Regions from separate parts of the Homo sapiens genome. Here region 2 is linked to region 1. The links come from fine-mapping of genetic effects on gene expression. A gene starts in region 1. The other region holds a variant in brackets. All regions are shown on one strand. Distances are from middle to middle.

Region 1 (9,997 bases):
TCCACCTCCAAAGCTCAGGTCACCATTCTTCAGCACAGATGGGCAGTCCACCCCAGCTCACCAGACAGAATCATGGTTCAGGTGCTCCAGGGGCTTCATGTTCTCGTCGAAGTAGATGTCCATGGTAAGGGATGTGTCTGTGTCGTGGGCGGAGTTGAAGTTGGTGACAGTACGGGTGGCCAGACCCAGGCAGCGCAGCACTGTGGAGGAGCGAAGGTTGGGGTTCAAGGCATGGGTTGGGGGCAAGTGAGGCATCGTGTCAGGAGTATCAGGGGGAGAAGGGCAACTAGGATTGCCAAGCTGGGCATAGACTGCCAGGGTCAGGGCCACGGGGGCCACAAGGCCTTTGGGCTACAGAGCACTTGGGGTCAGGGGAAGCTAGGCCACCTGCCTGGCTCAGTCCTTGCCTGTCCCTTCTCCCTCCTTTCCCTTAGGCCTCTCTCTGTTGTTAACACTAATTAATGATAATTAAGGCCAGCCTATTACCCACCCCCGCCTGCACCCTGCACTGTAGCCACATCTGGGCAGGGCTGGGTAAGCCTGGCTTTCCTCCCTTCTCCCTGTAGGGCCCGGGCCACTCCTGTCCCAGTCCCTCCACTACCTGTGGTGGTCACGCCAGCAAAGACCCAGCACTGGCCATAGGGGACGGAATATCCCGTGCGTAGGTAGCTAAGCAGGATCTCCACGCTGCCCACCCACGCTGATGGGTTGGTGCCTCGGGAGTAATCACCAGACCAGTTCCCAATCAGGACTCCATTGTCATCCAGGGAGTTCACCTGCCCAGGACAGGATGAGATAGGGCGGAGGTGGAGGAGGGGCTCAGGACCTGCCATGTGGTCCATGGGGACCAGCCGGGCCCCGATCCTGCAACCACCCCTTACCCCTAAATGCCTCAGGATCCAGACACCAGCCTGAGCTCCACCCAGCCCTTCCCTCAGCCATCTGCCCCCCTCCCACCCGGGCTCTGACACAGGAATGTGAATCCTGGGTGTGCCAAGTTTTGGGTTTGGCCCTACATTCCACAGGAGCTGGGACAGGAGCCAGGAAAGGCGGGGTGGGGGGCAGGCAAGGGAGAGAAGAGGAGGGAGACCCCTTCCTGAAGTATCCTTTACGAGGGCAGGGACAGGGCTGGGGGTTCTTGAGGAATCCAGAAAGGGCAGGAGGAGGGTGGGGGTGTGGCGAGGCAGCAGGCACACACACAGTAGGACTCAGAGATGTGAGGGTGCTCACCATGGCAGAGATGACCCGGGAGACATTGACTGGGTCTCCACGGCCTCCATATGGCATCCCCCGCCGGTCCAGGATGTATAAGCAGGCATCCAGCACCCCGTGGTCAAACTGGAAGGAGGGATGGAGGGCAGAGGTGACAGCCTGAACCCTAGGCCAGCACCCTGCTCCAATACCCCAGCCCCCACACCCACCCCAGCTCCTCTGGGTGTATGTGACCCTGGCCAGCCGCACCATACCTGGCCGTAGTTCCAGGTCCGCTCACCAATCTGTGCTTCGGTCCCGTAGTAAATTCTCCCAGACTCATTAAGAACATACTCCTGCCGCCAATCCTCATGGTCCACGTACACAATGTCCTCTGTGTCCCCAGAACACACAAAACTGGTTCCCTCCAGTTCTCTCCCTGGGCCTCACCTACTTCTGGCCAGTTCTGCAGGACTCATGTCCACAGAAGAAAATGCGGGGATGCCCCTAGCCTGACAGGACTGCTGTGGGAGGACACGGGGAGCATGACAGATGGTGGAGGAGATTGGCTGTAGCCAGGGGCCTTTGCCAGGAGAGGTGTGGCTGGCTGTGTGACCCTGGGCTGGCCACCTTTCTGCACCAGGCCTCGGTCCTCTCATCTGCCCAATGGGAGGCTGGCTTCTCCTGGGGTCAGGCACCTAGGCACCCCGCCACATCCGAGGGCAGGAAGCCCTTCCCTGTCTTTCCCTCCCATCTACCCTCTGCTCCAGACCCCAGCTGCTCACCTGGGCACCAGGGGTTGAAGAGGATGTAGATCTCATTGCGGGGGTCAAAGGGCAACTGGAACTCCCCAGCGTCTGATTGTGTGCGGACTGTGAACTGAAACTTGCCGATGATGGCGTTGGGGGAAGTGTGGACCCGCAGGTTCAGATTCTGCCCACTGGCCTTGACCACCTGGGCTTTCCAGCCTCCACTGCCCCCCTTGCCCACTGGGATGATCACGTGCGTGCCCTTGCCCACCTCGGGGTTGTTTCCTAGAGTAGGAAATCAGCAATTAGCTGGCAAGGCCTCCCTGAGGAGAGGGGATGGAGCCTGGGACTTCTCCCGGCCCCACCCACAATGTGTATGAGCCACTGTGTATGTCCCTACGTTGGGCCATCACCTTATTCTCTGACAGTCTCCCTTAGAGCAGCTCTGTCTCCACCCAATGCTTGCCCACATGTTAGGGCAGTGCCGCAGTCCAACATCCCAAACCTGTTCCCCTGACACTGAACTCTGAGGTGGGGAGGAGAGACGAGGGCTCCTGTCACCTTCTGCCTGCCTGACTATCACAGTGCCTGGGCTGGAGGGGCAGATCCACCTGCCCCGTATGAAAGGGCAGTCCTGATCCTGAAGGCCAACCCTGCCTGCTTCCTGGGGCTGCAGCTTCCAGAGCCCAGGGCATCCCTGGTGGAGGTGGTAGGGGTTCCTGGGAAATTAAAGGATGAGGTGGGCAAGGTTAGGCCCTAATCAAAGGGTAAAAGGAGTCACCTGCCCCAGGCAGCAGCATAATCACCAGCCTGAGAAGTCAAGCTACACCAAGCAACGCGGTAAGGGAGGCACCTGCCTTGGGTCATGGGGACAGAGGGACAGAGACAGAGAGAGACAGAATTGGCAGAGATGGGGGACATGGAAGGCAAGAGGGAGAGAGAGAGATAGAAGAGAGAACCAGCCACATCCTGGGGAATGAGAACAGATGCACAAAGGACAGAGCAGCAATGCCGAAGGAGGCACCGAGGCAGGCCCTGAAGAGGAGTACTCTGAGACCGATGCCCCAGGAGGCTTGAGGAGGATGGGCTTGGGAAAAACTGCAACACCAAGACCCTCTCTGAGACACAACCCCAGGGGCACACCCACACACTTGCACCTGCCTTATCTGGCAGAGGTGAGGAGTGGGGCAGGGAGGAGCCTAAAGACCTCTCTGACCCTAATGCCAGCCTCTCCCCACCAAACATAGGGCCTTCACCCGTCCCAATCCAAGCCCCACTGACCGATGAGTAACTCAAGGGTGATGCGATCAGAGGATTCATAGGTCCGGGACAGGAGGAGGAGCATATGGAAAGGCTGCCCGCGGCGCACTATCAGCTCGTCGTACTCATACTCGTCTGTGTGGTGCTCTCGGCGGTTCTGGTCCGAGCGCGAGCTCAGCAAGTCCACACCGTTCACTACTAGCATGCCCTCTGCAAGGACACAGCTCCGTGTCAGTGAAGCCCCATGAGGAGCCCAGGCCCTTATCATTAGCTTCCTATCCCCCCCAGAAATGCCAGGCTGAGTCTCTGGTCCCATTAAAGCCTTTTAGCTCTCAGCTGAGGAGGACAGACCGGCCTCACCTCGGATGGTGCCATCTCCAGCTGCATTGACACCGCTGCCCCGGGATACAGGCCGGCGGGAGTCTGAGCCCCGGGAGCCAGGTCTTCGAGTGCCAGAGCTGGACCCTCGACCCCTGGAGTCAGAGGGTTCAGGTCCCCAGTCGTCATCTGCCGCATTTCGGCATGAACAGCAGCCACAGCAGCGAGCCCAGAAGGAACGGCCTCCTCCTCTGCGAGAGCGTCCGTCTGGCTCTGGCTCTGGCTCTGGAGATGGCGTGGTAGGGGGCTGCAAGGGGTTGCCACCCCAACGGCCCACATCGGAACGTGGCCCATCCATCATGCCTGTTAGGAAGAGGCAGGGTGGCTCCTTAACCCAGGTAGTCCCAGCCAGTTGACCCAGAAACCCTCCATCCAGACAGCTGATTCAGTCCCACCCGATGACCGAAACAATCCCACCTTGGCCCAGAGATTCTCCAGACACATCCAGAGACCTTCCGCGAAGACCATTCAGACTCACCCAGAGAAGCTTCTCATGCTGCAGAGAAAAGCCTTCCCCTCACCCCCACCAAACAACATCCGAAAAACTGCCCAATGAAGAAACCCACTCAACGATCCATCCCAGGAAATCCACATAGTTCCCTGCATGGACACTTGTCCCAGCCTCAAGACCCAGCTGCACACACATCAGAGTGCTCCAGCATCCCTGGGCCTGGTCCGTCCACCTGCTAGCTCTGCAGTCTAGAGGTGCACAACACTGACAGCTTCTAGAACTCATTTCTTAGCAGAAATCCCCCAACTCAAGGTTCCTCACAAGACAGACAAGTGACCCCGGGGCCTGTGGTCCTTGGCATTCCCAAGTCAGGGAAGACCCCACTTGGGGCTGCCAGGAGGGGTAGGGCATGGCAGGTGCCCGGAGCCTGTGCACAGGGAAAGCAGAGTCTTGGTGTTGGGAACAGCCTAGCTGGGGCTGACAGGTACACAGCTGGCCCACACCCCACCTTGCTGGATCCAGGCACGGCCTCTGATAGTGTGGGCCGCCTGGACTCGGCACCACAGTACCCGTGGGAGCCCCTCACCTGGCAGCAGTGTTGGCAACCGCAGTACTGAGTCCTGGGGCTGAGATGGAACAGGTCAGGATGGATGGGACAGGACCCACAGACTGGATGCCGCAGGGACAGACCTGGTAAGTGACTTATGTGGGAGGGAGGGGCCAAACTGCTGTAGGGGGCGGAGAGAAGAGGCCAGGCCTCTGGGCGGGAAATGGGGAGAAGATGCTAGGGAGGGAGCAGGGGTGAGGTCTGGGGGCTTAGGCTGGGCTTTGGTGGGAGCCACCGCTGTGATGGCCCCTGGCACCAGGCTGATTCCTACCAGACTGGGCATGTGAGGAGCCCCTTCTCCCGGATGAAGAAGCTGCAAGGGCAGTGGGGCAGGCAGGCCCTTCCACCCACAGCCCTGTCTGGCCGACCTTCTGGTCCCAAGCTTAGGCTGCCTACCTCTGCTCTCACAGGCTCCTGCTGCCGAGTTCTGTGCAGCCCAAGCCAGGCTCAGCCCTATGAAATTGGCCCAGGGGCCTGGTCCTGGAACTCATCCTGCCCAGGGAGGTCCTGGGATCCCAGGTTGCAGACTGGTGACATCAGCAGCCAGGCCCTCAGACTGGCTCCACCAGCTAACCCCTGACCTGCTGGCTCTACCAGATATTCTGACTCCCTCCACCCCCAAGTCTGTCCCTTCTTTCTCAGCTGCTCTACAGCCCCAGGCATGAGTGAGCTGCCCTCAAGTTTGGGATTAGGGAGATCAGAGTAGGAGCAATCTCATTTCACGTCCCCCACCCCCGCTGTAGCCTCGGGGGTTAGGGGATGTTTAGGCCTTTCCACTCAGGCTTGGGTGGGAACTGAGTCCCCCTTCCAGGGGTACAGAGTACCTTTCTCTCACTGAGAGGAGTCTCTGCTCAGTTGGACTAGAGGATTCCCTTTTCTCCAACCTGGAATTCTTCCTGGGAATCCAGACCAACCGGCTCAGGCACCTGTGCTGTGTGCATCCTTACTCCACCCCGTCACTGGGGAAACACTGAGGATGGCACCAAGGCGATCCCAAGGTAGAGAGGAGGAGGCTAGGCATCTTCAGGGAGGCTCTCCTTGGGTCTTGTCCTCAGGCCCGTCAGCCAGGGCCTTCTTCCTTCTTTCCTTCCTTCCCACTAGTGTCCCAGCTCTGCCCATGGGCCGCCTAGCAGAAGACAGTAAAAACAGGCCGACAAGAAGACACAAGGAAACAGAATCCAGGAGGGGCTGTTTGGTGATGCATCAGGCAGGGAGGTGCCGTGGGGAGTGGGGACAGAGAGGCCCCAGGAACTGGCAGGGAGCCCTCCACACCCACACTGCCTTTTCTTGTCCAGCTCCAAGCACCAGAACCTGCCCGGGGGTGGGGGCAGGTGCCCCACCTCCAACACCCTCAGTAGACACACCAGTGGATATAAACTTCCAGGCAGGTCAGCCAGAGGGCTTTGTGCAGGGGCTGCGGATTTGTGCATCACTGCAGATACGGGAAGGGGCAGGGCCCTGGCTGTCCGGACGTGTGTGAGCACATGTGGGCCCAGGCAGATCCCAGAGAACCAGTAGGATGCCTTTGTCACACTCTCTCCCTAGCTTTAATCAATCTTTCTCTCCCCACCCAGCCAGGTTTGAGTCAGTGCCCTAACCCCTGAGCCAGTCCCCTCCCCCCACCACCACTCAGGACTCTCTAGGTCAGGACAAGGTGTGTACATGGTATGTGTGGGGGGACACCATGGGAGCAGACACTCAGCTCAGGACCTCAAGGAGCTGAGGCCAGGCCGCTGCCCAACCATTCCTTAGCAATACAGAAGCAAGAACATGAGTCTAGAATCCTAGACCAAGGGTAGAGACAACTTTGGTTTCAGTGCTGAAGCGCTCCGGCCAAGAACCTTGGGCAAGTCTCAACAGCAGTTTCCTCATCAGTACACTGGGCCTAAAAATCTCATCCCTGAGACTCTGTGAGGATCAAATGGTATCAAGTATTCTCAAAGGTACTTCAACCGTAGAATGCTACTCATGGGGACCGATAGTGTTGTTCAGGCAGGACGGAGCAAGGACACCCTGGCCCATTCCTGGGAACGTGGAGCCCTTGAGCCTCCCCAGCTATGGTGAATGGGGGCCAGGGCAGGGGGAACATGTGGAAGGTGCAGGGGTCATGGGAAAAAATTGTATGATGCTTCCAGCTGGAGAAACTCACAGCTGCTCTGTAGCTTACCAGAGCCAGAACCTGAGCCCAAGCCCTATTCCTGCTTGGAATCTAGACCCAGTCCCAGCCCCCACCCCAAACCAGAAGGTAAACAAAAGCTCAGCCTTCACCCTGAATTCTGCCCCAAACACTGAAGCCTTGGCTCTCTCTGAGAGGAAACAATAGGATGGCGCAGAAAGAAGGAGCTGGCAACACCCCATGTCTCTTCCCTTTCTTTTCAAAAAATAAAAGTGATGAAGGTGGTGGTGTAGTGATAGCAGCGACAACAGCTTGGTAGCCTGAGAGGGCCTCTCCATTCTTTATTCAGTCCCAATAAGTTAAAGGGCAAGGGTAGGGGGCAGGGCCTCTTAGGTGAGGACGCTGCTAACTGAAGGCAGCAGTTCAGCCAGTTGCTCCAAGATGCCCACCGCTTGGCACAGCGGGTTACCCTGCAGGTTGAGGAGGACCAGCCTGGGGCAGGAGGCAAGAGGCTGGAGCACTGCAGGCTGCTGGAGGCCTTGTTCAGGAGAGTCAAGGAAAGCTTGGCAGGTTCCTCCCAATTTATTTGCTCCTGTGTACCCTCAAGAGCTGGGGACTGCTGCCTGGAAGTCTGTTTGATGGGCATCTCATATGCTCCCTGGAGGGAGTCAGGCTCTAGGCAGGGACTGCAAATGCCTACCCACAGGGTCAGCCAGGAAAGAATGAGCCGCAACACCCCACGCAAGCTGGTGTAGTATCAGGGGAGTGGTGCAGGGTATGATAAGGTGGAAATCTAGCCTGGTCCAAAGAGACATTTACTATTCAGCAATGACCAAGGGCTGCTGAGTGAAAATACCAGTGTAAGGTTGCTCTAACTTCCAATTTTTAAGAGAGGAATTAGAACTCTAGATGTTTTTTAAAGTATGAAAGTTCCTGATTTTCAAAAAACTACATAGACCTGAAGAACAGCTGCGGGCTGCCCATTTGTGAACTCTGACTTGAGGAAGTCCACTCCGCACAACTCCACCAGTGCAGGTCAGTGATAGCCCGACAGCCCCAGGCTCTCCCCCTTCAACTCACACTACAGAGCCCCCTCTCTCCTGCCCTGCAAGAGGGTGGCACATACCCTGCCTGCTGTCTGTCCCTTCCCAGGGTGGCACCTCACTTTACCCACTGTCTGAAAGGCACCCAGAAGGAAGGATACGGTTGTTGCACAGTAGCAGCTCCTGCAGCCGGGGTAGGTTGGTGACGCCGTCCAGGGACTCTATGGCATTATCACTGGCCTGCAGCACCTGGGGGCAGGGAGGGCAGGGAGGCAGGACAGGCGCTGTCAGCCAGGGATGGTTCAGCAACTGAGGAGCTCAGGGTGACGGGTCCACAGAGCACAGAGGGGCTCACAGGGTCAGGCTGCGTGATGGAGGTGGAAGGCACGCAGTTACCTGTTCGGGGTGGAGGGTCCTGCACATCTCCTTGTAGGATGGGCAGACTTCTGAGGGAGAGGAAGAGGAAAAGAACCACCCGTGACAGGGACGGAGACATGGGTACTTTACCTCAAGGCAGCGCAGGGCAGCCAGTGCAGGTGGCAGGGTTCGGAGGCGATTGTGTGACAAGTCAAGATGGGTGACCAAGAGCAGCTGTTCCAGATGGCAGAGCACTGTCAGATCCTGGGGGGTGAAGGGAGGAAGGAGGTGATGGGCTTCCCAGGAGACCTGGGAGAGGGTCCTCGGCCAGCATTTATTAGGCACATGCCCTCTGTGCCCCACAGGCCCTTGGGGACCCCAGCCAAGAAGAGGATGGGAGCATGTGGGAAGCTGACCTTACAGCCCACAGCAGTACATGACGTGGGACAGACAGTGCTGCGAGTGGGGTAACCAGTGGGGTGGGTGAGGAGGAGGAGGCCTGGAGTTCGGAGGTACAGGGGCCAGTGGAGGGTGCTGGGTAAACAAAGACTGGTCCCCCATGGGGACTGGTCCTGATGAGGCAGAGATGAGTTTGGCAGGAATGGAGGTGGGCTGTGGTGATGTGATAAAACTAATGTGTTGGGAAGGACTAGGAAAGTGGAGCCTGGACAACTTCTCAGGAATCTCTGGAAAGTATTTGGCCTTCAGGTATTGGAGGTTGCTCCAGGGTGAGATGTGCTGGAATGTGTGGGAGGAGTGGGCTAGCGGTCACTCTGAAGGAAGATGAAGCTGTGACCAGCCTGGGGAAGAAACAGCACAAGGAGGTCCTGGTGACTCGGGATTTGAAAGTGAGTGGCAAGAAGAAGAATGGGCTGAGTGACAGAAAGGCCTGGAAGAGGAGCAAGCTGGGAGGCAGGGATGAACTCTATCTTGATTGGAAGTCCACAAAGGCACCTGAGACTGGGGGCAAAGTCAGGGACGTGGGGAGGCCAGCGGGATGAGGGCCAGGGGAAGGCATGCATGGCAGCCCATACCTTGTGAGCCAGGTGCAGCACACGCACCTCGGCATACTCCATCTTGAGCACGCTATTCTCCAGCAAGAACTTGCTGCGCAGGTCATCCAGATACGTTGCCCGCATGGGGTCCACGGCCTGGAGTGGATGAGGTGGGCAGGGTATGCATGTCAGCTGCCTGCCTCCTGCCTGCTGGGCCTCCCCCTGGTCTGTTCTGCAGACAGAACTTGCCTTGAGGGTCTGGAAGTACTGCAGGGTCTCCTTCTCATACAGCAGGGGGTCCAGTGCCCGCATCAGCAGGATGATGGTAAGCAGGCACCCTGAGGAGAGGGCAGGGAAAAGGAGGGTTTCTCTTGGAACCTCCTCTGCTCCCATCCTCCTGAGGCCTTCCTGCTGTCCTCTCAGGGCCACACTGGAAAGGGGTTTCCTCAGCGGGCTCTGGGAGCAGACTCTCACGGAATGGGGCCTCACATTTATTCTCAGGCTCCAGCTCCTGCAGCTCCTTACAGGATTCCAGCTCAGACTGCAGCACTGTGGACTTCTCCACTGACAGCTCACACCTGAGGGTGGGCAGGGTGGGGAGGAGTTGAGGCCCACAGCCCTGAAGCACTGGTCAACATTCCCAGTATCTAGACTGAAACAGCTCCTTGAGGCCCCAGCCTCCTGCCCTGGCTGCCTGATGCCCAGAGTCCAGAGCCCCTCTCCTTGTTTTGTGCTTCCCTATCACCACCTGAATAGCTGCTCGTCTGTCGTGGAGTCCCGGCACCAGCCCTCCTGGCGGCCTGGGGAAAGAGTAGGTGGTTGGAGGGTGCACCCTTGAGAGGAAAAGAGT
Region 2 (15,653 bases), 720 kb before region 1:
CATGGAGAGAAGGGGAAGAGAAACAGGAAGGATGAGATGTGTGTACCCCTAGTATGGAGGATTGTTTGGTATAAACAGCAAATAAACTATAACTAGATGAGCTCTATTTTTTAGGGCAATGGAAGAACATGGGCTTTGGATCCACACACAGAGAGCCAGGTTCAATCCTTGCTCCATCACTCACTAGCTGTGCAACTCTGGGAAATTACGTATTGAGCCTTAGTCTCCTTATCTGGGAAAATGGGAATAATGATATTTTCCTTACTCAGTTGTGAAGACCAGATAGGTAACGTGTAAAGTGCATTTGCTGGGTGTTCAATGAGGGTAGTTCTTTTCCTTCTCTCTTTCCTGTCTCCCGTCACAGAGTGGAGCATGGTGTTTGCACAGAGGCTGACAGCTTTCCTTCTGTTCACCCCTTTTTCTTTTTTCTCTCTTTTTTTTTTGAGACAGAGTCTCGCTCTGTCACCCAGGGTGGAGTGCAATGGTGTGATCTCAGCTCACTGCAACCTCCACCTCCCAGGTTCAAGTGATTCTCCCTGCCATAGCCTCCCGAGTAGCTGGGATTACAGGTGCATGCCACCAGGCCTGGCTAATTTTTGTATTTCAGTAGAGACGGGGTTTCACCATGTTGGCCAGGCTGGTCTCGAACTCCTGACCTCAGGTGATCCACCTGCCTTGGCCTCCCCAAGTGCTGGGATTACAGGTGTGAGCCACTGCGCCCGGCCTCTGTTCACCCCTTTCTTGACCAAGACTCATCCTCTAATCTCTGCCCTTTTCAACTGAGGGCAGAATCTTAGATGGACAGGATTTTTTTTTTTTTTTTTTGAGACGGAGTTTCGCTCTTGTTGCCCAGGCTGGAGTACAATGGTGCGATCTTGGCTCACTGCAAACTCCACCCCTGGGTTCAAGCGATTCTCCTGCCTCAGCCTCCCAAGTAGCTGAGACTATAGGCAGGCTCCACCACGCCCAGCTAATTTTGTATTTTTAGTACAGACAGAGCTTCTCCATGTTGGTCAGGCTGGTCTCAAACTCCCAACCTCAGGTGATCTGCCCACCTCGCCCTCCCAAAGTGCTGGGATTACAGGCCTGAGCCACCACACCCGGCCAGGATTTAAATCTAGTCTACTCAGCCATAGAGTTCACTTCTTAGCCCTCTTGATTGCTGGGTCTAGAGAGACCCATTATTCCAGAGCAAAGAGTAGAAATTGTGCCCAGGCTCACATTTGGACAGAAGCAGCTAATAAGTGGATCAAAACTATTCTGGCCTTTCCCTGCATGTCTTCTTTTTTTCTTTTTTCCAAAGATCCTTTCCAAGTCATCCCTGCATTTAAAACTATCATTCTATCATCTCTAAATCTTACCTTCTATATTTAAAAAGAAAACAAACAGTACTTTGATTCTTCCCTTTTAATTCTACCTATCTCTTCTAGACCCTTCCCCTTTTATAAATATTTAAGGAGAGCTTACTTTGTGCAAATAAGTTTTGTCCAAAAGAGAGAGAAAGAACGAGTATGGCAGGGAATGAGACAAGCAGGAAAAGGAGTGTTGTAAAGGGCAAAGAAAGATCGCTAAGGCAGAGAAGAGGAGGGAGGAAGAAGGGAAGGAGAGAGGGAGAGGTAAGGAAGTGAAGAGGAAGATGAAGCTAGGTCTTGATTTGCATATATTGAATCTTTTCCAGGCCTCCCAGCTCTGGCACCAGATTGGGATGGTGGCCTGTCCCCAGTGAGAAGGAGGTGGCAAGGAGGCTGTCTCTTGCACTTTGCAAGATGCTTAAGGTGGGCATGAGTAGATTGGGTGAGGTGTGAGGAGAAAAGGGTAGGCTCAGGAAGAAGATGGGGGTGGTAGGGAGCAGACAGGAGGAGAAGGGAAGCGGTAGGCTGAAACCACACACGTTCACATTTGCATGGATTTGCTGAGGTGTGCTGCAGAGTGTCTGCTACTGATGGGGGTGGGTGTCCAGGAGAGGAGGCATCTCCCTTGATGACTTGGAAAGTGTTGGATGTGTTAGGACAGCAGTGTGGAGCTGCTCTGCTGCACAGATCTATGTGATTTTATAGTACACTGGAGAGACTCACATCCTGCTAGATGTGGTTCTCTCGTTCTACATACCACAGGCTTAGACAACCACGAACCAGCTCGGAACCCTTCTTCTGTATGAGCACTCAGGGAGTTGTCCCCTTAAATTCAGAATCAGGATCCTATCTGATCCTTGCATGGGGGACCGCTGAAGAATTTGGTCTCCCAGAACTTGGTAGGAAAACATTCTTTTTTTTTTTTGGAGATGGTGTCTCTGTTGCCAGGCTGAAGTGCAGTGGTGTGATCTCAGCTCACGGCAATCTCTGTCTCCTGGGTTCAAGCAATTCCCCTGCCTCAGCCTCCCGAGTAGCTGGGATTACAGGCGCGTACCACCACAAGCAGCTAATTTTTTGTATTTTAGTAGAGACAGGGTTTCACCATGTTGTCCAGGATGGTCTCTATCTCCTGACTACCTGACCCGCCCACCTTGGCCTGGGATTACAGGCGTGAGCCACTGCGCCCGGCTGGAAGGAAAACATTCTGAGTGACCGTGTATGTAAATAAGTCTTTCTGGTTATTTTATTCTGTGAACCTGTGTGATGTAATGACTGCATTTAAATAGTATTACAACAAAAACTAATTGTAATAATAGTAAATAGCTAACATCTTTAAATGTTTGCCATGGGCCAGGCACCGTGCTAGGCCCTCGGCAAGTATCACATCACCTAATCCTCCACTTCAATCTGATGCAATAGATGTAGCTATTCATTCCTATTTTACAAACATGGAGACTGATTTAGATGGGTTAAGTAATTTTTAAGATCTCCTGCTTAAAAAGAAGTAGAGTTGAGATTGGAACTCAGGTAGCCTGATGTCAGTACCTCTGCTCTTGGGTTAATTTGTAAGCTTCTGAACTCTGGCTGGTATGCATTTTGAATGAGGTCTTTTGAGTCTGATTGTATTACTCTGTGTGTCACCTTGAGCATATGTGCTATCATGTTCCGCCTGAAGGTGCTAGATGGCTGTCTTCCATTTGGTTTGTTTCTTAGTATAAGATGGACCAGAAGAGGAGCACTGCTTTGCGCAACTCCAGGGTGCGTCATTCACACTGCAGTCCATGCAGGGGCACTGGCCATGCCCTGTGTGAAGGAAGGGAAGGAGCGGGAGGGAGGGAGTGGGAACAGGAGGGAAGGGATAGATAATGGCGGGTAGTGTTCTTTGAATGATATGTGTACCCATTTGTGACAACATCTCTTAAAGTTGAAGGTCTACACATGTGTATCCATATTAGCATATGAACTTCATCAGACAAGCACTCTCCCTCCAACAGAGGGAGACCCTGTCTCAAAAAACAAAAAAAAATAGCCTTTAGAGTCAGACAGACCTGGAATCAAATTCTAGTTCTGTTTCTTAATATGTAAATGACCTCAGGTAAGTTGCGTAAAGTCTCAATTTAGTCTCTTCATATAGAGAATGGGGCAGGCCGGGCACGCGCCTATAATTCCAGCACTTTGGGAGGCCGAGGTGGGTGGATCATTGGAGGTCAGGAGCTTGAGACCAGCCTGGCCAACACGGTGAAACCCTGTCTCTACTAAAAATACAAAAAAAATGAGCCGGGCGTGGTGGCATGCACCTGTAATCCCAGCTACTCAGGAGGCTGAGGCAGAAGAATCGCTTGAACCCGGGAAGCAGAGGTTGTAGTGAGCCGAGATTGCACCACTGCACTCCAGCCTGGGTGACAGAGTGAGACCCTGTCTAAAAACAAACACATCAGAAACAGAAAACAGAAAAAAAAAAAAAAAAAGGGAATGGGGAACTCATGGAGTTGAGTCCATTGAGAGGATCATCATTGAGATTGGCACTTTGGGTGTATCAATAAATGGAAATGGAATAATTATTCATCCATATGCCTTATTTCCTGTGTTGGGGTATGTGTATGTTGTTTTTTGATTGTATGTGGGGCAGCTGGTAACCTGGCTGTAGCCCTGTCCCAGTACTTCTTTGGGGTTGGTGAAGGTGCTTGTTCTCCCTGGCTGGATTTTCCCAGGCCCTCCATGTACACGTGTGTGGGCCCTGTGCTTCCCTTTCAGTAGTAGGGTATCCTGTTCAGTGTGTTGCTGTGAGCCCGTATGTGGTTGGCCCGGCTGGCGCGGGCGTGTTTAGGGTGGTGGTAATTACTGGGATGGCCCAGCCCTAATGAGTGTGATCTCGTTACACTCTCGCTGCCTCTAATGGCGCTAACCTCATTTCACAGCCATTAGAGATGGAGATGAGGCCCCGCCCACTGGCCCTGCCAGCTGCAGCTTTTGCAGCCCTGGCCACGTTCTTTCCCTCCGGCTCGCCATTTCTCCATTCCACTTCTCCTTCTCCCACCTTTTTTTTCTGCTCCTCCTACCAGGTTTCCCTTTCCTGTCCCCCATTGTTCTTTTCCCTGGCCGTTTTTCTGCACCCCTCTCCTCTTTCATTCTCCTTTCATGTCTCCCTTCCCGCTTCTCTCTTCGATTCTGGGCTCCTCTTCTCTTCACTCATCACCCTCCCTTTTTTCTCCTCTAGTCAATTTGTCCTCCACATTGCCATTTCTCCATCCTCTTTTCCTTCCCTCTCCCCCGCCCTTCACGGCTCCAGTTCCTCCCCTCCCCCACATTGCCCTGTCTGGCCAAAGGACAAATCTCAAGGGGAAACCAGCAAAGACAAACAAGGAGCAGTGACTTCATTATCGTCGTTAATTTGCCACTTCAGTTCCTCCCATAAGGGTCAAAGCCAGCACTGCTTGAACTCAGGACTGACACGCAGGCCGAGACCATGGCCTGGCTTTTCAGCCCTACTTCTTACACAACCACTCGTCCGCCCTCCTCAGCTGTCTTCATTTCCCTGCGGAGGGGTCAGGCTTCCTGTTTGCTCTCCAATTTCTTAGTCCTCACAGCCTACTGCACTCCTTCCTTTCTCATTTAAATTGTGGCCATCTCTCTGTGCTCTCTCCCATCTCCAAGTCATGGGTTTTTCACCTTTGACTCCTATCTCTGTCATACTCTCTCCCAACTTCTCCCTGCCTAATCTTTCCAGAACCTCTTTCTCATCCTTCCCTGGCCTTCTCTCTAATTTCAAGTGCACTTCTTTCCCTAAAGCAGCAGGATTTATCTGTAGGTTTGTGGAAACCACATAGCCTGAAGAAGCTGGAGATGAGAAGAAAGGCATCTGTGGCCCAAGCAGACCACTGATACAGAACACAGAGATGGCTGGGGGGAAATGCAGACAACTGTGATGGAGGCAAGAGAAGCAGCAAAATCTAGACCCATGCCCATGGCCCAGGAATAAAGAAGACAGAGGCTTGAGATTAGGGAAAGAAAAGGGCATCACAAAACAAGGAATGAAAAATCTGAGGATGGAAATGGCGTTTACCCCATCAGGTCCTCGGGGAAACACAATCTAACACTCTTGGCCCACCCTCTGCCCTCCTTCACTGAGAAGCCAAATGACTGGTAATTGACTCTTGACCTCTAGCCCAAGCCCAGCCCCAAAGGGAGAGGTCCAGGGCAGTTAGCTATGACTGGAGGAGGCACTAGGGAAATGTGCATACATGAAGTTAAATTCCTGCCTACACCCATTCTGCCCCACTGACTTTGCACATCAACGTGCTCCACAGGACCAGACTCTCCATGCATAAACTGCTCTGCAGAGAGGTCTTGCACACCCTGGAACATTCATGTCTTTCTGATTGCACAGGCCCCTGTGCATGCGACATTCCAGTTGATGGTCCTGCTGGGAATTCCAAGGCCTGAACTTTAGCTTTGATGTAATCCTGTGTTCCTGCCAAATACAGAAAGAGGGCTCCTGTTCTCTCATTAGACTTTGGGGTAAAAAATGCTGAGGGGTGCTGAGCATCTCAGTAGAAATTAGAAAAATATATCTTCCTCCAGGTGTATGCAGCCCCCATGCCAGTGGTACAGCTTGGTGACAGGACTGTGGGTGGACCTCAGCCCTGTCACCCCTTAACAACTGCACATGAGGACCCTGGTCTCTGGACTAGTTCCTACATGAGGAAGCCACTGAGAGCCCATGGGATTACCCTACGGGGCTGGAAGTTACTTCTAAATCTTTCACCCCTGCCTTGCCAGCCTGGGGAGGAGGGATGGGCAGGCAGTTCCCTAGGACTTTCCCCAGAGAGGCAAGGGGCTCTGGGAAAGTGGGTGGTGGGCTGACCGAGCTTAGTGTGAGGAGCTCGAGAAGAAAGATGGAAAAATCAATGAAATGAGTTTCTAACGGTGAGGTAAAGGACCACTGTGTCGACAGCCTGTCGCTTGCTGCAAAATATGAGCTGCCCAACTCCGTGGCGGTGGCTGACAGTGCAACAGCCACCACTGTCCTTCCTTCAGGCCCCCCGCCCACCAGCCCCTTCTTTAGCTGCCCTGGCCTTGCTTATTATAGCCAGACTGTCCTCCAGCACTCCCAGCTCTCTCCCCTGTCTTCTTTTGTAGATTTCTCAACCCATTCAGGGGCTTTTTGGCCCTTCACCTCGTGATTCCTGATTGGGTGCATGTTTGTTTTCTATAGCTTCTGTGTATTTAGACCTCCTCTTTCTGCAGATTTTGCTCTGAGAGTTGTGGTGAGTTTTACATCTCTTGCCTCCCCCTCTTCTAGATACCTCTGGAGTCTTTCAACAATGGAGAGTCAGATGTCAAGGCCATCCCTCACAGGGTTCTTTACATCAAGATCTGGGCAGCAGTAACTTCTCCCTCCTTTGGCCTTTTGGCCCACATGGCCAATGCTGCCTTCGTTGTATTAATAATTACCTGGCTTGGGATAGGTGTTTAGAATGGGTCTGGTATTGATTTATGAACTCCTTATTTGCGGCCATTGTATATATACGGTTATGACCAATTCAATTGTAGTTTCATGATTGGGAATGGGGTGGGGATGCTACTTTTAATTCACATTTGCCAACTCTCTCTTTGGAAACAACTCTCAACCTTTTCTGGAAACCGCCTCCTTTCTCTTCCCTCCTCCACATCTTCCTCTTGGGCTCCTAGGGCTGTTCATTCATGTTTTCCTCCAATTATCACTACAAAGACTCTGCACATGAGCCCTGAGAGTTCCCCTGGCTGCCTCCAAGTGTGACCCTAACCCAGTCTCTCCTGTCTGCCTCAGATCTCACTGTCACTGGTTAACTACCCTCCAGCCATTCCCTCCGGTTTCTGATTTCCCAGTTTGCCCATTAATGTAGACTTAGGTGGGGGGAGTGGGTGAAAATTAGGTGGGCAACTCTTTCCCCCAGCCTCTCCCTACTAATTCAACGTTTGATCAGTAGATATTTATTAAGCCTTTTCTGTGTGACAGACACTGTGCTAGGTGCTGGAAAACAATTGGAAACTAGACAGATGTAGCCACTCCTCAGATGACCATGTGACTAACCCTGAGTCTCTCACCAGACAGCTAAGTCTCTCAGACTAGGGGACTCTGTCCCATTTCCCCCCTTTCTGTACAGCCAAATTCCACTGTGCCCTCTGGCATTTCACAACCCTTCCCTTTTCTCAATCCCTGAATGAGTTTACACTCACACAGCCCCGATCCCTTCCCTCTGCATTCTAGCTTTAGTCTCCATTCCTAAACCCAAAGCCATTACACTTTCAACAACTCTCCTCCCCACTCACAAAGCCCTTCTCCTTTCACATTCTGTAACTGCCATTTCTAGTCCTCCTCTTCCGTCTCTGCCTGCCTTTTGATCCAACCATCCTGACCTCAATGCCCTGTCTTAGGTTCCTTCCTCTTGCTACTGTCAGGCTCTAGCAAACCTCAGGTGCTCA[C/T]AAACAGGAGTTATTTGTGACAACTGTTGTTCTGAGCTGGGAAGAGCTCCAGGGAGGCAAGGTCAAGCTACCAGAGTCAGAAATCCTACCAATTCGACCCAGGCCCTGGCCCGTAGGTGATACAGCACCCCGGCAAAGCAGCAAGTGATTCCTGTATGGGTCTCAAGGTAACACCAGCTGCCTCTGACATCATGGAGGGAGGAACCCTGTCAGGTTGCCAAGGCAATACCAGCAATTTATGACATCAGAGGCTTGAGGTCTTTGGTTCTCAGGGGCTGGGAAGATTCAAGTTCCTCTCAGCTGAAGTTTATGGGAATTCTACTTTTTCATCTCTTTGCTTGTGTTCTGGCTTGGGAATGAAATACAAAGGCCTTTCGTGGGGGTAGTGAGTGATTAGGCCAATGAAATGAATGCTCGTGAGGTTCTCTCTCTCTCTGTCTCTTCCCTGGATATTTCTGCTTTCTCTCCCTCTCTTGGGCATTTCTCTCTTCTGGGGCTTCGCCCAGTGGTATTCCTGCTATTTGTGCTATGCTTTTTTTCCAACCCCCCGGCGCCCCCGCAGTGCTCTCGCTCTCTTCGCATCAGTCACGCTGTGTCCTCCTCACACCAGAGGCATTTGTTTCCTTTGATACCTCATCCTCTCCTCTTTTCCTCCTACCAAGCTCTGTGCAGCTCTGATCTGCCTCAGCACTCCTTCGTTTGCCATCCATTTACCTTCTTTGTACCATACTCTCTTCCCATCTCATCTTGTTCAGCAATTCCTCCCTTCCCCCTCTTTACTACTGTATTAATTTCATAGTGCTTTTTCTGTTGACCTCCACTTTAGGAATATTCTATCATTTCTCTTCCTTTTACCTTCTGTATTGCTATCAACACGTTTTGTTTCATTCTTCCAATTTCTTATTAATCACCCCTTGGTTCCTCCCCTGCCCCCGAGTCCGCATAGATTTTCCTCCCTTCCTTTGCACATCCCTCACGTCATACATTTCTCTACCCCATGTGTTTATTGCACCGACCACCCCTTTCTTTCTTTAATTCTGTTCACCTCTGAAATCGTCCATCTTCTGCCCATGTCTGCCTGCTCCTTTTACCTTTCCAAGCTCCTGAGGTTTGGAAAAACAATGATGGGCTAAAAACTAAGGTAAACTCTCCAGATCCTTTATCCACCCTTACTGTTCTTCAGGCTAAATGAACTTGGCTCCTTACATACGATAGCTTTTATTACACTAATAAACACTGCCTCATTAAAAAAAAATGGTGCTGGATCTAAATATGATAGTAGCAGGGGCCTAGGAAGAAGATGAACTAAAAAGTGAAGAAAAAGCAACTGATATCTAGAATGAACTGAAGGATGGGGGGCAACCAGGCAGGGTGGAGCTTAGAGTCCTAGGGAATGTCCCCTTACAAAATCAAAGTTGACAGTTAACTGACATAATGGCACTGACTGATGGAGGGGTTATATGCCCCTGGAAGCTCATTAAATTTATTTCTTGGCCTGTTTATGTGCCTTCACAAACCATACCCCACACCTCTCCCAGCCCTTTGCTTGCTGGTACTTTCTGCTGCTGGGGTTAAAATGCTGGATAAGAGGAAAAGGGATAAAAGAAACTAGAAACTTAGGGTGATCAAGAAGAAAAGGTAGGAAGAGGGCAGATTATGGGAACAAAGGTGGAAACTCAGAGCTCATGGGAAACAGATGGAAAAAAGGGGTGAAGCAAAATGGGGAAATAAAAAATATACAATGATACAGTGGGGGAAGGGAGTAAAATTAAGTCAGCAGGGAAGAGGTTTTGTTGTGCGAAGCTCCTGGAAAGGCAGATGACACGCATGAGACCAGAAGGTGAGGTTCTGATGAGGGAGACAGGCACATGGCAAAGGGGACAGTCAACAATGCTAGGAAGTTCCAAAGCTTCTCTGGTGATGGTGGAAGAGGAGGCTGTCCTGGCCATGCTGAAGGCACTAGAGGCTTTGGCGAAGACACATTTGCTCCATCATCCCACTCCTCCAGGCCCTGACTGTGACCACCACAATCATGACTGATAAGCAAATTCCAAAGTAGCCTGAAAAGGCCAGAGATATCCAGACAGACTCTGAAGGAGAGGGCATGGAATCCTAGACCGACAGAACAGGCAGCCAAGGCGTGACACATAGTGATAGAGACACACAAGGAGAGGATCACTCAGATGGGAAGGGTCACAAGTGGAGACAGTGACATACAGATCCAGAGATGGATGGGATGGAAGAGACAAGATGAAGAACAGCAAAACCAAAAGTCAGGGACACATGGACAGAGATCAGCGGGGCTACAGGCACAGCGAGGAAGCGTGGTCCTGTGCTTGAAAATGATAGGGCTGCTCAGAGGGGCAGACGAGCGGATGGGGGTGGTAGGATGGGCGTGCAGGACAGACACGCTTCACCTTGAATGGGCTTATGGCCTCCCCTCACCTACTCAACACTTTCAAAAAAAGGAATGGAAAGCCCAACTTCAGCCAAAAACGAACGAAGACTGAGAGTATCCACGTCCCCTCCCACTCCACGCCCCAGCGCGCTAGCCCATCCATCAGCCCGCCGGCCGCGGTTCTCCCATCCCACAGCCGGCGGGGGGCCGCCGAGACCCAGGACCCTCCAGGCTGACAGCTCTGAGCCCTCACACTCACCGGGCCTCCCCTTCCCCCCGGGATCCCCGCTCCCTGCCCAACTCGGCGCGGTCCGTCTAGGCTTTCCATACCCTTCGTCTGTCCGGCGGGCCTCTGCCTTTCCCGTTCCCGTTTCTCCCTCCACCCCCGCATCTCTCTTCCCCCATCCTCGCGCACGCCCTCTTCCTCCCACACCCCTGTCTGCTATCTCCCAGGGCTCTCGGTCTGTCTGTCCGTCCGTCCTTGTCCCCTCCCCCAGCCCCTTCCCGTCCCTCTCCGTCCCCTCCAGCGGCAGTCTCCAAGCGCCTCCTCTCCCGTCTCGAGCTTCCAAAGAGCAAGGAAGGGAAGAAGAGAGAGAGGGAGAGGAGAAAAAAACCAACCCAGCAGCATCGGAAATCGATGCACTTACACCTCAGCTGGAAGCAGGGACGGGAGTCGAACCGCGGCCACCGAGCAGCGCGAGGCGGGGAGGGGAGGGGGCGGCTCTTGGAAGGGACTTCTCCGATGTGTTGATTCCTCTTTTTTCCCCTCCTCCTCCCTCCCTCCAGCGCTCGCTCCGGGGCGTCAGGGACGGAGACGGAAAAAAATAAATAAATAAATTCACGGCGGTGAGGGAAGTGAAGGAAAATAATCAATGCTATTTGGCTGCGGCTGAAGTGTTTCCCCGGCTTCGTGAGGGGGTTTCCATTGATTCACCCTGGGCACTCGCTCGCTCCCTGCCTCCTCCTCCTCCTCCTCCTTCTCCTCCTCGCCCTCCTCCTCCTCCTCCTCCTCGCCCTCACTCCTCCGCCTCATTCACTGGCTGGAGTCTAGGCGTCCCACACAATGGAATAATCAATACCCAGGCGCCCGGGGCTGCCCCACTGAGCAGGTGCAGCGACCCGCCCGCCGCGGCGCATGCCGGGAGTTGTAGTCTGTTCGCGCCCGCCCGCCTGCCTCGCGGGACCCAGGGCCGGGGGCAGGCCGGCCAGCCCACCAGGTCGCCTCCAGGTTCAAGCCGGTGCCTGCAAAGAGGGCAGGCCCCTTTAAACTCTTTTCCGTCTCCTCTCCTCTTCATCCTGTGGCCTGCAGAAACCATACATGTGTTTTGTTGTTTTGTTTTAAATCAGCTTCAGAACAAGCCCTGAGCCGCCCAAGGCCTCCTTTTTTCATTCTCTTCTTCCTGCCTTATTATTCCGCCTCCCCCATCTCCCCCCGCGAAATTGGGTACTAGAACCTTCTCTACCGCAGCAATTACTCTTTAGTCTCTGAGAGCTTCTGCCTCCTCCACACGGTTACATAGTCCCCTGAGCTGGGTTGGGGGAGGTTCGGGCTCCTCCTCATCTTCAGTTTATCGCTTATTAAGTGCTCCTGAATTTTTTTTTTTTTTTTTTTTCTGGAGACGGAGTCTCACTCAGTCGCCCAGGTTGGAGTGCAGTGGTGCGATCTCGGCTCACTGCAACCTCCACCACCGGGTTCAAGCGATTCTCCTACCTCAGCCTCCTAAGTAGCTGGGATTACAGGCATGCATCAACACACCCAGCTAATTTTTGTATTTTTAGTAGAGACGGGGTTTCACCACGTTGGTCAAGCTGGTCTCGAACTCCTGACCTTGTGATCCGCCTGCCTCGGCCTCCCAAAGTGCTGGGATTACAGGTGTGAACCACCACCGCGCCCAGCCCGTTTTTTTGTTTGTTTGTTTTTTTCTTGAGACAGAGTCACTCTGTCGCCCAGGCTGCAGTGCAGTGGCATGATCCCGGCTCACTGCAACCTTCACCTCCCAGGTTCAAGTGATTCTCCTGCCTCAGCCTCCCAAGTAGCTGGGATTGTAGGTGCCCACCACCATGCCCTGCTAATTTTGTATTTTTAGTAGAGACGGGGGTTTCACCATCTTAGCCAGGCTGGTCTCGAACTCCTGACCTCAGGTGATCCACCGGCCTCAGCCTCCCAAAGTCCTGGGATTATAGGGGTGATCCACCTCACCCGGCCGCTCCTGTATTCTAATAATAATTTTTAAGATTTCTTGAATGCACAGGGACAGTTCCAAGCACTTTTACATACATTGTTTACTCCTCTCAATACCTCAAGCATGAGGTAGATGCTATTATAGTCTCATTTATTGAGGAAACTAAGGCACAAACAAGTGAATTAACAGGCCCAAGGTCCAATGGCCAATAAGTAAGTGACAGTGCCAGGACTCAAAAACCTCCATGGTCTGGCTCCAGGGCCCATACTAACTGCTATAGCCTACTTCTCTTAAACAACACAACAAAACCCTGAAGTTCACATGACAAAAAGGAGAGATAAATGAACATTTTGAGTTTATACTATGTGACAGTTTATGACTGAATCCTCACAGGTAACTGTGAGGCAGGCCACATTTTCTCAATGAAAAAGCAGAGGCTGGCCGGGCATGGTGGCTCACTCCTGTAATCCCAGCACTTTGGGAGGCTGAGGTGGGTAGATCACCTGAGGTCAGGAGTTCGAGACCAGCCTGACCAACATGGTGAAACCCTGTCTCTACTAAAAATACAAAATTAGCTGGGCGTGGTGGTGGGCACCTGTAATCCCAGCTACTCGGGAGGCTGAGGCAGAAGAATCGCTTGAACCCGGGGGGCAGAGGTTGCGGTGAGCCAAGATCACACCATTGCACTCCAGCCTGGGCAACAAGAGTGAAACTCCGTCTCAAAACCAAAAACAGGCCGGGCGTGGTGGCTCACACCTGTAATCCCAGCACTTTGGGAGGTGGAGGCGGGTGGATCACAAGATCAGGAGATCGAGACCATCCTGACTAACAGGGTAAAACCCCATCTCTACTAAAATTACAAAAAATTAGCCGGGCATGGTGGTGGGCACCTGTAGTCCCATCTACTTGGGAGGCTGAGGCAGGAGAATGGCATGAACCCTGGAGGCGGAGCTTGCAGTGAGCCGAGATGGCGCCACTACACTCCAGCCTGGGCGACAAAGCGAGACTCCGTCTCAAACAAACAAACAAACAAAAATTAGGAGGGTGGGGTGGCACGTGCCTGTAGTCCCAACTACTCAGGAGGCTGAGGCGGGAGAATCATTTGAACCCAGGAGGCAGAGGTTGCAGTGAGCTGAGACGCCAGAGTGAGACTCTGTCTCAAAAAAAAAAAAAAAAAAAAAAAAAAAGCAGATGCTTAGGAAAGTGGAGTAGCTTGCGGAAGGCCAAACATCTAGAAAGTGAAGCTGGGAGTCGACCTCAGGTCTGGCTCCGGAAACTGGTCTTTCTGTTCAAATAAGCTGCTGCTTTTGCCCCACTGGATTGGATCTTATAACATAAGGAAAAATTAGGTCTTCATCCCAGGTTAACAAAACCGGAAAGCAAAAGATGGATGAAAAGCAGGCTTTAGGAGCTGGGGTTTCTTCTCTCCCTAACCAACAGTGCTTAACATGGAGTGGGGACAGAGGTTGACCCAAGCTACTCCAAGTTCAAGATGCCATTTGTTTATTTATTTATGCACAGGGTCTTGCTCTGTTGCCGAGGCTGGAGTGCAGGCAGTAGCAGGATCGTAGCTCACTGCCCTTGACCTCCTGGGCTCAAGCTATCCCGCTGCCTCAACCTCCTGAGCAGCTGGGACCACAGGCATGCACTACCACACCCGGCTAATTAAAATTTTTTTTTTTTTTTTTTTGTAGAAACAGGGTCTTCCTATGTTGCCCAGGCTGGTCTCAAACTCCTGGCCTCAAATGATCCTCCTGCCTCGACCTCCCAAAGTGCTAGGATTACAAGTGTGAGTCAACACACCTGGCCAAAATGCCATGTCTTTAAACCAGTGTCCTTCTCCCTATAATACCTCTCACTGGTCATGTATTTCCAGAAACATACTGGTGAGAGGGCAGGTGTTGAGAACATGGCACTTCTCACCCATCATAGGAAGGAGTCCAGGAGTTAAGAGCCACGGTTCCTCAGGGAGCTTCCTCACATGGAAGGTCAGACATATAGTTAGAGTCTCCAGATAACCATAGTCCTCAGAGGGAGTAAGAAGGAATCATCTCTATTAATATTTTGTCTCCCAAAGCATTCAAAGGGCCAACCCCCATGTTTTCCTGAATTTTATTTTTTTGGGGACAGATGGAGTCTCGTTCTGTCGCCCAGGCTGGAGTGCAGTGGCGCCATCTCAGCTCACTGCAACCTCTGCCTCCCAGGTTCAAGCAATTCTCATGCCTCAGCCTCTGGAGTAGCTGGGAACACAAGCACGCGCCACCATGCCCGGCTCATTTTTGCATTTTTAGTAGAGACGGCGGGCCGGGGGGGTTTCTCCATGTTGGCCAGGCTGGTCTCGAACTCCTGACCTCAGGTGATTCACCTGCCTCGGCTTCCCAAAGTGCTGGGATTGCAGGTGTGAGCAACCGCACCGGCCTTTCTGTATTCTAAATGAACATAAGTAGTTCTACACCTGACAAAAACTGCTTAGGGACCGCTGGAAACTCTGACAAACTCCTCAGTCTAGCACTCAAGGCTTTTCCCTCAACTGCATTTCTAGCCTCGTCTTCTCCTTACGTACCACCCAGGTGCTCTCCAGTTTCTGGGCCTTTGCTTAGGCTATTCCTGTCTCCATCTAGGTCTCCAACTGTTGAAATACCATCATATCTTTAGTTCCTGGCCAAAATACCACTTTATTCTCTGACAGAAAGTTTCTCACCCACTCTTACCCTCAACGTTCATGCCAGGAGGTATTAGATCCCCTCTAAAACTCCAGAGTAGCTAAACTGGACTTTATTACGCGCTGCCCCCGCCCCCTTCCCTCCCCCCACCCCAACCCCCCTCGCCACCATTGCCACTGGCCTGCGCTTAGCTGGCTGCTATAGCAGATATCTGTTGGACGGTGTGAATGGCTTGTATTCCAGGCCCATCTGCCTGCGTTGGGGGTGCGGCGGGGGGTGTTGGAGACGGGACTGGGGCTTGAGCTCCTTGCACCCGACTCTCCCCGCCGCCTTGTAGCCCCAGTTCAGCTTTAGGTAGAGTACCGCAGGCACCAAGTGCAGCTTTCCTGTCGCCATAGCGACGGGCGGGGCGAGATGGCAAAGTCTCCCTTTGGAACTACATCTCCCATCATGCATCCGCGCCTCGGGGTGCCTGGCTCAGCCTCAGGCATGAGACCTGTACCAGCCCCCGGGAGCCGTGCGGGGCCAACAATGAGGAGCAGAATGCAAGGGGCGGCCTCGCTCCCCTGGCCACCGCGGGGGTCGCGGCCTC

The links. PIP is the estimated chance that this variant, and not a neighbour inherited with it, causes the effect.
Region 2: its variant is fine-mapped to the expression of TGM1 in caudate (GTEx, PIP 0.97).

What each region holds. Positions count from the first base shown.
Region 1 is chr14:24,258,474-24,268,470 of GRCh38, forward strand. It overlaps TGM1 (transglutaminase 1), which reads right to left and starts at 4,704. Exons shown (of 15, transcript NM_000359.3): 1 at 4,616-4,704; 2 at 3,561-3,881; 3 at 3,222-3,410; 4 at 1,977-2,225; 5 at 1,467-1,585; 6 at 1,231-1,338; 7 at 602-776; 8 at 62-200. The coding sequence starts at 3,879. RABGGTA (Rab geranylgeranyltransferase subunit alpha) reads right to left here. Exons shown (of 17, transcript NM_182836.3): 11 at 9,896-9,947; 12 at 9,637-9,725; 13 at 9,397-9,485; 14 at 9,187-9,303; 15 at 8,303-8,416; 16 at 7,957-8,044; 17 at 7,065-7,290. The coding sequence ends at 7,142. RefSeq lists enhancers at 1-678, 5,179-5,187 and promoters at 3,879-6,879, 3,879-5,632, 3,887-4,082, 4,643-6,309, 4,692-7,209.
Region 2 is chr14:23,540,481-23,556,133 of GRCh38, forward strand. ZFHX2 (zinc finger homeobox 2) reads right to left here and starts at 11,285. Exons shown (of 10, transcript NM_033400.3): 1 at 10,863-11,285. It also overlaps a transcript of THTPA not described here. RefSeq lists enhancers at 4,833-5,457, 7,330-7,953, 10,077-10,739, 11,589-11,638, 15,171-15,653 and a silencer at 11,219-11,458. The variant C/T (reference allele first, on the strand shown) is at 7,818.